Linked DNA regions of Homo sapiens. The protein of the gene in region 1 interacts with the protein of each later gene in a biochemical or structural test. Each region holds a gene or a part of one and is shown in the gene's direction. Other genes may lie near its edges.

Evidence for each region.
Region 2: the proteins of ERG (region 1) and CDC5L form a complex in vitro, tested with the Homo sapiens proteins (one large-scale study listed by BioGRID).
Region 3: the proteins of ERG (region 1) and DDX21 form a complex in vitro, tested with the Homo sapiens proteins (one large-scale study listed by BioGRID).

The regions. Positions count from the first base shown.
Region 1 is NC_000021.9:38,383,393-38,387,131, reverse strand, and holds part of ERG (transcriptional regulator ERG), read left to right. Parts: intron 1-3,208; coding exon 3,209-3,729; 3' UTR 3,730-3,739. UniProt on the Homo sapiens protein: Transcriptional regulator. May participate in transcriptional regulation through the recruitment of SETDB1 histone methyltransferase and subsequent modification of local chromatin structure.
Region 2 is NC_000006.12:44,421,986-44,425,724, forward strand, and holds part of CDC5L (cell division cycle 5-like protein), read left to right. Parts: intron 1-661; coding exon 662-824; intron 825-2,433; coding exon 2,434-2,598; intron 2,599-3,739.
Region 3 is NC_000010.11:68,980,170-68,982,868, forward strand, and holds part of DDX21 (nucleolar RNA helicase 2), read left to right. Parts: intron 1-1,367; coding exon 1,368-1,412; intron 1,413-2,373; coding exon 2,374-2,643; 3' UTR 2,644-2,699.

The DNA.
Region 1 (3,739 bases):
CACTCTGCAGCTCTCTGCTTTGCTCTGTGGTTTGTAAACCGTTTAGTTTTTTTTTCCCCCTTTTTTGCTCAGTCTGTACCCCTTTGCTACCCTGTTTCTCTCCCTTTCTTTTAACAATATTAGGAGATTACTTTCCTCTGTAAAATTAAAGGAGTGCCTCTGTCTTCTTAAAAGCCACAGCCGCTCCCTTTCACCCACAGGGTTCTCTGTAGGTGGACAATGCTGCTTGCCACTGTTTTTTACCTCCAAATATGTTTTATTTTGGTAATTACCCTAAGAAAAAATTAGTTCCTCCTTACTGACATCGCAAGGATGTTATTAAGAGAGAGTAAAAAAAAAAAATAGATCTGAAGGGTTTACCCAAGAAAGGTGAGTCCTAAGGTAGAGGTGGTGATGCTACTCAATGAAAGCTCTTGTCTTTCAAGAACTTCTCTTTGTAAATCCTGGTTTGGCCCATGAGTGACCCAAGCCACTTTTAGGCTTTCCTAAACCCTAAGCATTCTTGTTTGGAAATCTCTATTCTATATTCTAAAATGCACCTCGTCACACATTAAATGTTATTGTTTTGGAAGTAAAATAAGAATTTAAAAATTGCTCTTAAAATTTTATGACTGAGAATAATTCCTTTACCACTGACAATTTTTTAACAACCATTGTTCATTTTTGAGAATTCTTGCAGTGAGAAATTTTGTTCTACACACTGCAAAATGCAGCGAATTTTGTTACAAATATTAAATTTAACAATTAATGAGTTTGACATGATGTTACTCTTTCTACCATTTACTTAAACATTCATTGATTTTGCATTTCCAGGTTTCTTTCAAGGTTTGAAAGCTGATGAATTTTGCTTACAGTTCTCTTATTTCTATAGACCCTCCCTTGAAATTCTCACAGTCCTGAGCCCTATGTCTTTATGGCTACTGGGTAAAATAGTCAAGTGAGAAATTAGCTCATCCATCCTTTGGGCATAGAGTTTGCTGCCACAAATTTAGGTCCCCTGCTTTCTAACTCTTCAGAAATAGGAGAGACATGAGATCACTTTTGTCCACTGATTCTGTCCTACACACGTTTATAAGAGAAATGGGTGAGGGACAAATTGCTAAGAGGCAATGCCAAGGTTTGAGTAGATTCCAAGTGTGATTTCGGCAGGTCTGTGGAGTTGCTTTCTCTATGGGAGAAAGTTGACGCTGAATATTTATTTTCAAACAACCGTATGTGTTTATATTGAAGCATCTGTTAGACTGTTAAATCAAAAATCCATGCCTTTTCCTATTCCCAGGTCATATACGGAATTTTTTCAAGTTGTAATTTTTTGGTTACAATATATATACTAAGACCATATGGTTTTCTCATACCATTCTTTGTATTTTCTAAATGCATATTAATAAAATGTTGGAGGCAACAAAACTTGATTGGGAACAGTTTGTATATGTGGTTCTGAAAAAGCAAAGGCTTCCACTTCAATGAGCTACAAGCTGTTAATACATTTCAAATGTGTTGCTAGACTGAAAATGAGCACTTTCCAGCATAGATTCAGAAAAAGCTGACCTTTCTCACAGTGCTATTGTATGGATAAATTCACAAAAATATCCATGTCCATGTAGCCAACATGCAAAGCAGAGTTTATAAGTTGGGTGATATGTACAGGAGGCTAGCGAGGATTTAGAAGAAAATGAACGTAAAATTGATTTTTACAGTATATTACTTCCCTGAGTAGATGTCAGTTAAAGTTACTTTAATCATTTTATCACATCGATTGATATTACTTACACTATAATAAAAGGTAATCTTTTGGTAATAAGTCTAAGGCAGTGCTGTAACTGGAATTTGGGAGGAAAGACCCACCTCCCATCTGTTCTTAAGCTTCTGAAATATGTTCAGCACAGCTTAGCTTCTCTTGGTACGGATACTGCTGTCAATATTTACATGCTGCTGTCTTCTAGGGAGCCATAAACTATCTTCAAGTATTGTAACATAGCAGCTAGAATGATGTGCCTAGATTTTTCTTTGAATTTCATAAAACAAAGCTGTATCTGTATGATTTCAATGAAATCAAGAAAATTCTGACTTTGTCCACCCAGCTAAATGTGATCTCTTTGACAAAGGAAGAGTCTCATTCAGCTTCCCAAGGGGACTTGCAATCACTCATTGTTGGGGTTTTTCTTCTGGAAATGCTGCTTAACACAATTGGCGTTGCAGCACACAGGCAAGGCACTGGTTTCCGTTACGATGCGCTTGCCCAAATACTGGAACTGGGTGATCTGGTTTGAAAAAGAGCCAGCTTTTTTTTTTTTTTTCCTAAACTTCCTCATTTTGAGTGGGTTAATTCTGTTCTAGGAAAAGTTTTCACAGAATTGCTTTCTGAGCGCCAGCAAAATGTTATGTTAGAAATAATGGTGTTTACTTCCATTCTCGATTTTTTTCCATAAACTTTTAGAAGTTCATTTCCTAAATCTAACTTTTATTATCTTACTTGACCTAGCCAATATAAATGGCATTAAGTCATTATTGCCATCCACATAACAGTACTTTGTGCTTCACAAAATAGGAAAAAAAAATATATAGCTCTTTCATCCCCTAAACACCAGGTTGATCTGGCTGTTCTTTTAAGGACGTCAGAAATGGATGGAAGCAGCCTGAACTTTGCCCCATATGAATTCGCTGCATTCCATCTAGGTCTTGAATCTGTTAGATCATCGTCCTAGGTCGGGTTCCCTTGATGCAGAGCTTGGGGTAAGCCTGCTTGTGCAGGTGACTGATTAACGGCATGTTCTCAGGAGAGAGAGAATGGGAAGTGCTGCAGGGGCAGCGCTAAGGAAGTTTCTGGCCTCCTCCAAGCCTCCTTGCAGCTGGACGCTGTTTCAGCCCAATCCCACGGGAGCCCTGAAGCCTGAATAGCGTCATGGAGTTGGTCTTTCCTTGAGGCAAGGGGGCCGGCCCGTGGTACCCCGTTCAGTCCACCCAGCTGTGGGATACCTGGGGGTGGGCGAGGCGGCGGCTCTGTTCAGGCAAGGGCAGTTCTCTGGAGAAGTGGGTGGCCATGGAACGAGAGCAGTCCGCACCCCTGCAGCTGAGGGATGGACGGACAGGCCTGGTGAAGGGAATGTGGGCGGCACACCAATAGCACCTCCTTCCGTCATCACAGAGAGCCTCTTTCCCCTGGAACCTGTGCTCACTGGAGTTTTCCTTCCTCTCCTGACCTCATTAGGCAGTGGCCAGATCCAGCTTTGGCAGTTCCTCCTGGAGCTCCTGTCGGACAGCTCCAACTCCAGCTGCATCACCTGGGAAGGCACCAACGGGGAGTTCAAGATGACGGATCCCGACGAGGTGGCCCGGCGCTGGGGAGAGCGGAAGAGCAAACCCAACATGAACTACGATAAGCTCAGCCGCGCCCTCCGTTACTACTATGACAAGAACATCATGACCAAGGTCCATGGGAAGCGCTACGCCTACAAGTTCGACTTCCACGGGATCGCCCAGGCCCTCCAGCCCCACCCCCCGGAGTCATCTCTGTACAAGTACCCCTCAGACCTCCCGTACATGGGCTCCTATCACGCCCACCCACAGAAGATGAACTTTGTGGCGCCCCACCCTCCAGCCCTCCCCGTGACATCTTCCAGTTTTTTTGCTGCCCCAAACCCATACTGGAATTCACCAACTGGGGGTATATACCCCAACACTAGGCTCCCCACCAGCCATATGCCTTCTCATCTGGGCACTTACTACTAAAGACCTGGCG
Region 2 (3,739 bases), on another chromosome or scaffold:
CACCGTTCTGCAACACACCAATATACAGGAAATAGGCAACCAGGAAAAAAAAAGACTTTGAATAATTAAAATATAGGTTGCTGCAAAATCTGTGGATCTTATTCCTAGGAGAATCTCTTAGGCCTCACTCAGGAACTTACTCATGTTTAGATGTGATTTCAAAAGTGTGGTGTTTGGTTTCCAAACAAAATGTAAAAGGAGGAACTATTTAATAAAGTGTGTACATTTGTAATAATGACAGTGATAGTGATGTGAGAACCAACAGCTTGATAGGGAGGGAGGAGACAAATATACACAAAACTCAAAGAGTCATCTGGGGTCATTGAGTGTGGTGGCCCACCTCCCTGCCCACTGCATGTTCTTAGTCGCCCTAATGTGCCAAGAAAAGGTTGAAATAATGTTTAGTGGACGTAGTTTAGGAAGGCAAGAAAATATCAAATGTAGTGATTATTGTAAGTCAGTAAAATAAAAATACCATGCTAGCTAGACCAAACATTGATTTTAACCTAGAGATCCTAACAAAACCAGCTGGACAGAATTTTGAAATCTTTATTCTTTTTTTTTTCTATATTTCCTGTGAAATAATTTATGTGAAAAACATTTGAAAGCACAATCCAAATGTAAGTGGCACTTCTGTTAATTGGGATTCCTGTCTTTCTAGGACTCCTTCTAATGGAGCTGAAGGGCTGACTCCCCGGAGTGGAACAACTCCCAAACCAGTTATTAACTCTACTCCGGGTAGAACTCCTCTTCGAGACAAGTTAAACATTAATCCCGAGGATGGAATGGCAGACTATAGTGATCCCTCTTACGTGAAGCAGATGGTAAATGTCAATTCCCTTTTAATACTCTTAAATTTTTTTTTAATATCTCATGGATGCCAAATTAAAATTTCTCCTGTTAGTGCATATCACATATACCTTAAGAATCTATACACCTGTGGATGCCAGAAAAAGAATTATTTGTAAGACTTGATGAAAGGGAATATTTTGGGCTCAAAACCCACCTTTCTTTATGCTTACTAGGTTTGTGAATATTGATGTTCGTTGTTGATTTCACTGAAGTTTTCTTTAGCAAGCTGAGGTAGAAAGCTAACTGTAAAAAGTTAAGTTTTGCTTCTGCCCGTGTTACTGCGTTTATTACTTTGCTATTGGGCCTTATTATCTAATGCCACAGAAATCATTGTGAAATTAAAAAAAAAACTTCTAATGATACTGGCTTGTCTTCAGTTTAAAATTAATTCTAACCTCATGTATATATTTGGTTGATTTATATATGTTTTTTAAAGTTCAAATTGATATCAACTAAAGCCAACTCTGAATGGATACATAAGAATTAAATAGATTAAGAACCTCATGCATGCAGAGCATGCATTTGGACATTTGAGGGGATCTAAAGTTGAATAAAGATGTCCTTTGTCCTAAGGAAATTTATATTCTGGGGAGATTGACAGTACTAAACTAAGTCCAAAAATAATTGCAATATCAGAACAGAATAAGCCCTTTGAGTAAAACCAGTGTGCTTAGGGTAGTTAAAGAAGGGAATAGTCACATTTGTTGGGTAACAGGAAAGCCTTATTAGAGGAGCTATGTTCTGAAGGAGGGTGGGGGCTGTCTCAGATGGAGACTACAATATGAGTAAGCATGGAGGATGTTTTAGATATAGCAACTCATCTGTTCCTCACACCTGGTACATGTAAGCACTGAGGATGGATGGGAAAACTCTGGGTACCAGGAGGCTTTTTTGGGAACCAGGACTCTACTTTCTTTCTTCTGCATGGGATTTAGTATTTCCATTAAAAATAAACACATACATACAAATTCAAGTATCTTTTAGAGTGGATTTTATTAGTCCAAGGACAAACTAACTTTTGAACCTGTTCTTTTCATTTGCTGTTAACTTTCGGTGTCAGAAATGTGTTCCCTCAAAGTGGTCTTTTTTTCTGCCCTGGCCTCAGACCTCCTGTTGGAATATCCCAGAGTATCTTCAGTGATCACAAGTGAAAGTTTTTGGTTGGTCTTAATGTTGGGAAGAAGGGGGGATAGAAAATAAACATAAGACTTGTCTTAGCTCTGAAGTCAGGATTATTTTTCTAGAATTAATATTAGGCTGATTTTTTTTGAGACTTTTTTTCTCTTTCTGTAATTTTTAATTTTTGTGGATACATAGTAGGTGTGTATATTTATGGGGTACATGAGATATCTTGATACAGGCATGCATGTGTAATAATCATATCGTGGAAAATGGGGTATTCATCCCCTCAAGCATTTAACCTTTGTGTTTGAAACCATCCAATTATTCTTAGTTATTTTAAAATGTACAGTTATTTTGACTAGAGTCACCCTGTTGTGCTATCAATTTTTAAGAGACTCATAAAATACTGGTGGAATGTTTAATATGCATGAATTGAGAAGGACCACTTCTTTTCTACAGGAAAGAGAATCCCGAGAACATCTCCGTTTAGGGTTGTTGGGCCTTCCTGCCCCTAAGAATGATTTTGAAATTGTTCTACCAGAAAATGCCGAGAAGGAGCTGGAAGAACGTGAAATAGATGATACTTACATTGAAGATGCTGCTGATGTGGATGCTCGAAAGCAGGTGGGTAACTGTACTGAAAGAAGCGTGAGTTTGGCTGAATGTGTCAGTAGGCTGGAAGAATGAAGAATAGCCATTAAATGTCCCAAGATCTCTACCTAGTCCTTTTTAATATTGAAAAAACTTCTAAAGTAAATAACTTATGTCATTAATAATGTATCCTCACATAATTAACATACTCACAATATTTTGATGAGCATTCTTAAAAATATATATATGGAAATTTAAATACATTCTGTCAAATTCATTATGCTTCTCTAAAATACACATAGGTAGTCTTTTAGACATTGCTTCAATCTAGCAAAGAAAAGATGTTATTGGTTAGTCTTAAAAACAAATACATCTTGGTTCCTGGGTGGTGCGATGTACGAGCCTGTAGTCTCAGCTGCTCGAGAGGCTGAGGTGGGAGGATTCTTTGGGCCCAGGAGTTTGAATCCAGTCCGGGGAACATAGTAAGACCTCTATCTAAACTGGAGTTGGAAATTTAGATAGAGTGTGTCAAAATAATATTAGTAACACTTTGTACTAATATATCTTATACGTAATTACTTTCTCATTTGCACGTAACAGCACAGTGATATAAATAGGATCGGTATTACAGGTTGAACATTGCTAATCCAAAAATCCAACACCTGAAATGCTCCAAAATTCAAAACTTTTTGAGTGCCGACATGAAGCTCAAAAGAAATGCTCATTGAAGCTTTTTGGATTAGAGTTAGTATAATGCAGATGTTCCAGAATCTGAAAAAATCAGAAATCCAAGATACTCTGGGCCCAGATATTTCTAGTAAGGAATACTCAACAAGCTCAGATGAATTGAGGTCTCATGGTCTCAACTTTCTCAGGTCTCATGGTGGGTAAGTGGTGAATCCTAAACTAGAACTGATATTTTATGACCCCTTTCAGTAGCTGCAGTCCATTGCTGGATGATTTTAGGGACCTTGAATCTCAGGGGATTGGAGTGAGAATGACATCAGTGGAAACAATATTTTAGAGGGGACCCATGTAAATGTGCTTTTCAGTGGGGAACAGAGGATGATACTTTTTGTGTTTAGTTCTCAGCTACTTTGAGTTACATTTACTCCTTCAGAAATGGCATGAAATTTTAATGTGTTATCCCACATTATTCATAAGAATCAGGAAA
Region 3 (2,699 bases), on another chromosome or scaffold:
GCAGAGGTTGCGGTGAGCCGAGATCGCGCCATTACACTCCAGCTTGGGCAACAAGAGTGAAACTCCGTCTTAAAAAAAAAATTTTATATATATATAAATCTTTTCCTCCAAAGTAGCTTTTATGACTTTGCTTAGCCTTAAATCTTACCAGGCAATGTTAGGGGCGTCTTTATCTGTACTTCAGAGTCTTTAGGACACATGTTTATGCAGGTAAACTTTTACCTTGCTGTGTTTGCTAATGGAGAGCCTCAAGAACACTCAAAGGCAAAAACTGTTTTCTAATTACCTCTATACCCAGTGAATGCCTGGGATTATACTCTACTTCGTAAATATGTAAGCGAAGATTCCCATGAATGGCAAAATCCACCAGTAGGTGATGATACCTATGTTATGATTGGGTAAATTTTGGGGTGAAAGGGGTGTTCCTTATAAAATATTGCAGTTGAAGACAGCAGGGAGAGGAGTGCCTGTATTAGTTAACACATAGTTTGACTATATTTTTAGACGATTTCCTTGATTGGAGAGGATGGCACTTAATATTAAAGATGGTGTCCTGGCTAGGTGCCATGGCTCACACCTGTAATCTCAGTATTTTGGGAGGCTGAGCTGGGAAGATAATTCTTGAGACCAGCCTGGGTAATGTAGTGAGACCCTGTCTCTACCAAAAAAAAAAAAAAAAAAAAGCCAGATGTAGTGGCATGCACCTGTAGGAATTCAAAGTTACAGTGAGTTGTTAATTGCACCACTGCACTCCAGCCTAGGCAGTAGAGCAAGACCCTATCTTAAGAGGGAAAAAAAAAAGATGGTGTCCTGTATTATTTTTTTCATACTCTTACAGAAGGCTGAATTAAGAAAAACCAGAAAATCAACAATAGAAGATCACTTGTTTTTCTGCTTTTAATTAGGTCATTCTGAATAGCTGGCATTGCTTTTCTGATGGAAGGCAGTATATAGTTTAGACTATAGGTTTTAGAGCCATACAGACTAGATTTTAAATACTTGTGCCATTTAATAGCTGTGGGGCCTTAGACAAGTCAGCTAACCTTTCCAAGCCTGTTTGCTCAGCAATAAAATGTAGCTAATAGCCACTAGGGGGTTAGCACAGTGTAATAGCTAAGACTCTGTCTATAGTTAGAAAGTTCTAAATCATTTGGGGTTCTTTTTTTCAATGTTCCTTGTCTTTCTGCAGTGTACTTTTGGCAGCTATAATGTATTAGCTTTGGTCTAAAGTTCATCTAAAATTATACCTGGTGGTTTTTTTGCTTTATGTTTTTTGTTTTCTTTTTTTTAAAGAATACGTGGTCTTTTAAAGGGAGTATTTTTCATGTGCGTTGGTTGGATTAACTTCCATTTGCTTTGATTTCTAGGGTGTTTGCTTTGATGTACCTACCGCATCAGTAACAGAAATACAGGTATTCTTTTCCCTTAGATTTTAAAGTTAACATACCTAAATTGTAGAATGTTAATTATGAAAATAGAGAATAATAGATTGGGAAACAATAGTTCTGGTTCCTTTAGTAAGAGATAATCGATAATTAAATTTTGGAATATTCCCCCCTAACTTTTTAATTCTGATATTTTTGTAGTTGAACCCACCTGGTTTCTATATTTCCTTTATACAAAGTTGTGAACGATATCCAGCTCTCCCCACCCTTTAACACTTATATATGGTATATAGATTTTGTGTGTGTGTGTGTGTGTGTGCATGTGTGTGTGTGTTTTCAGACAGAGTCTCGCTCTGTCGCCCAGGCTGGAGTGCAGTGGTGCAATCTCGGTTCACTGCTACCTCCGCCTCCCGGGTTCAAGCGATTCTCTTGCCTCAGCTTCCCAAGTAGCTGGGATTATAGGCCCATCACTACCCCCAGCTAATTTTTTGTATTTTTAGTAGAGACGGGGGTTTCGCCATGTTGGCCAGGCTGGTCTCGAACTCCTGACCGCGGGTGATCCACCCACCTCCCAAAGTGCTGGAATTACAGGCATGAGCCACCACGTCCAGCCTACAGGTTTTCATAGACATTTAAAATTGTTACATCTTTATTCAATACTGTGAGAAATGTGTGCTTAATATATTTGTTTTATTACCTTTGGCTGTAGATACCCTGTAGCAATTGAGTTGAATAAATGGTTTAATAACTTAATAAATGAAGTAGTGATGAGGGCTATTTCTCATAATGAAACTGTGTTTTCCCACACTTCAGGGACACTGGCTTTTGGACCATGATGGGTGGCCAGTGTTATTTTTGACCAGTGACTTGTTAAGCACTTATGTTATCACCTTTTCTTTGAAGAAGTGGCAAATATTTTGTTTTTCTCATGCTTTTTAAAAATTGAATACTAATTAAAGCACACAAAAACAAAACATTCTCTCAACAGGAGAAATGGCATGATTCACGACGCTGGCAGCTCTCTGTGGCCACAGAGCAACCAGAACTGGAAGGACCACGGGAAGGATATGGAGGCTTCAGGGGACAGCGGGAAGGCAGTCGAGGCTTCAGGGGACAGCGGGACGGAAACAGAAGATTCAGAGGACAGCGGGAAGGCAGTAGAGGCCCGAGAGGACAGCGATCAGGAGGTGGCAACAAAAGTAACAGATCCCAAAACAAAGGCCAGAAGCGGAGTTTCAGTAAAGCATTTGGTCAATAATTAGAAATAGAAGATTTATATAGCAAAAAGAGAATGATGTTTGGCAATATAGAACT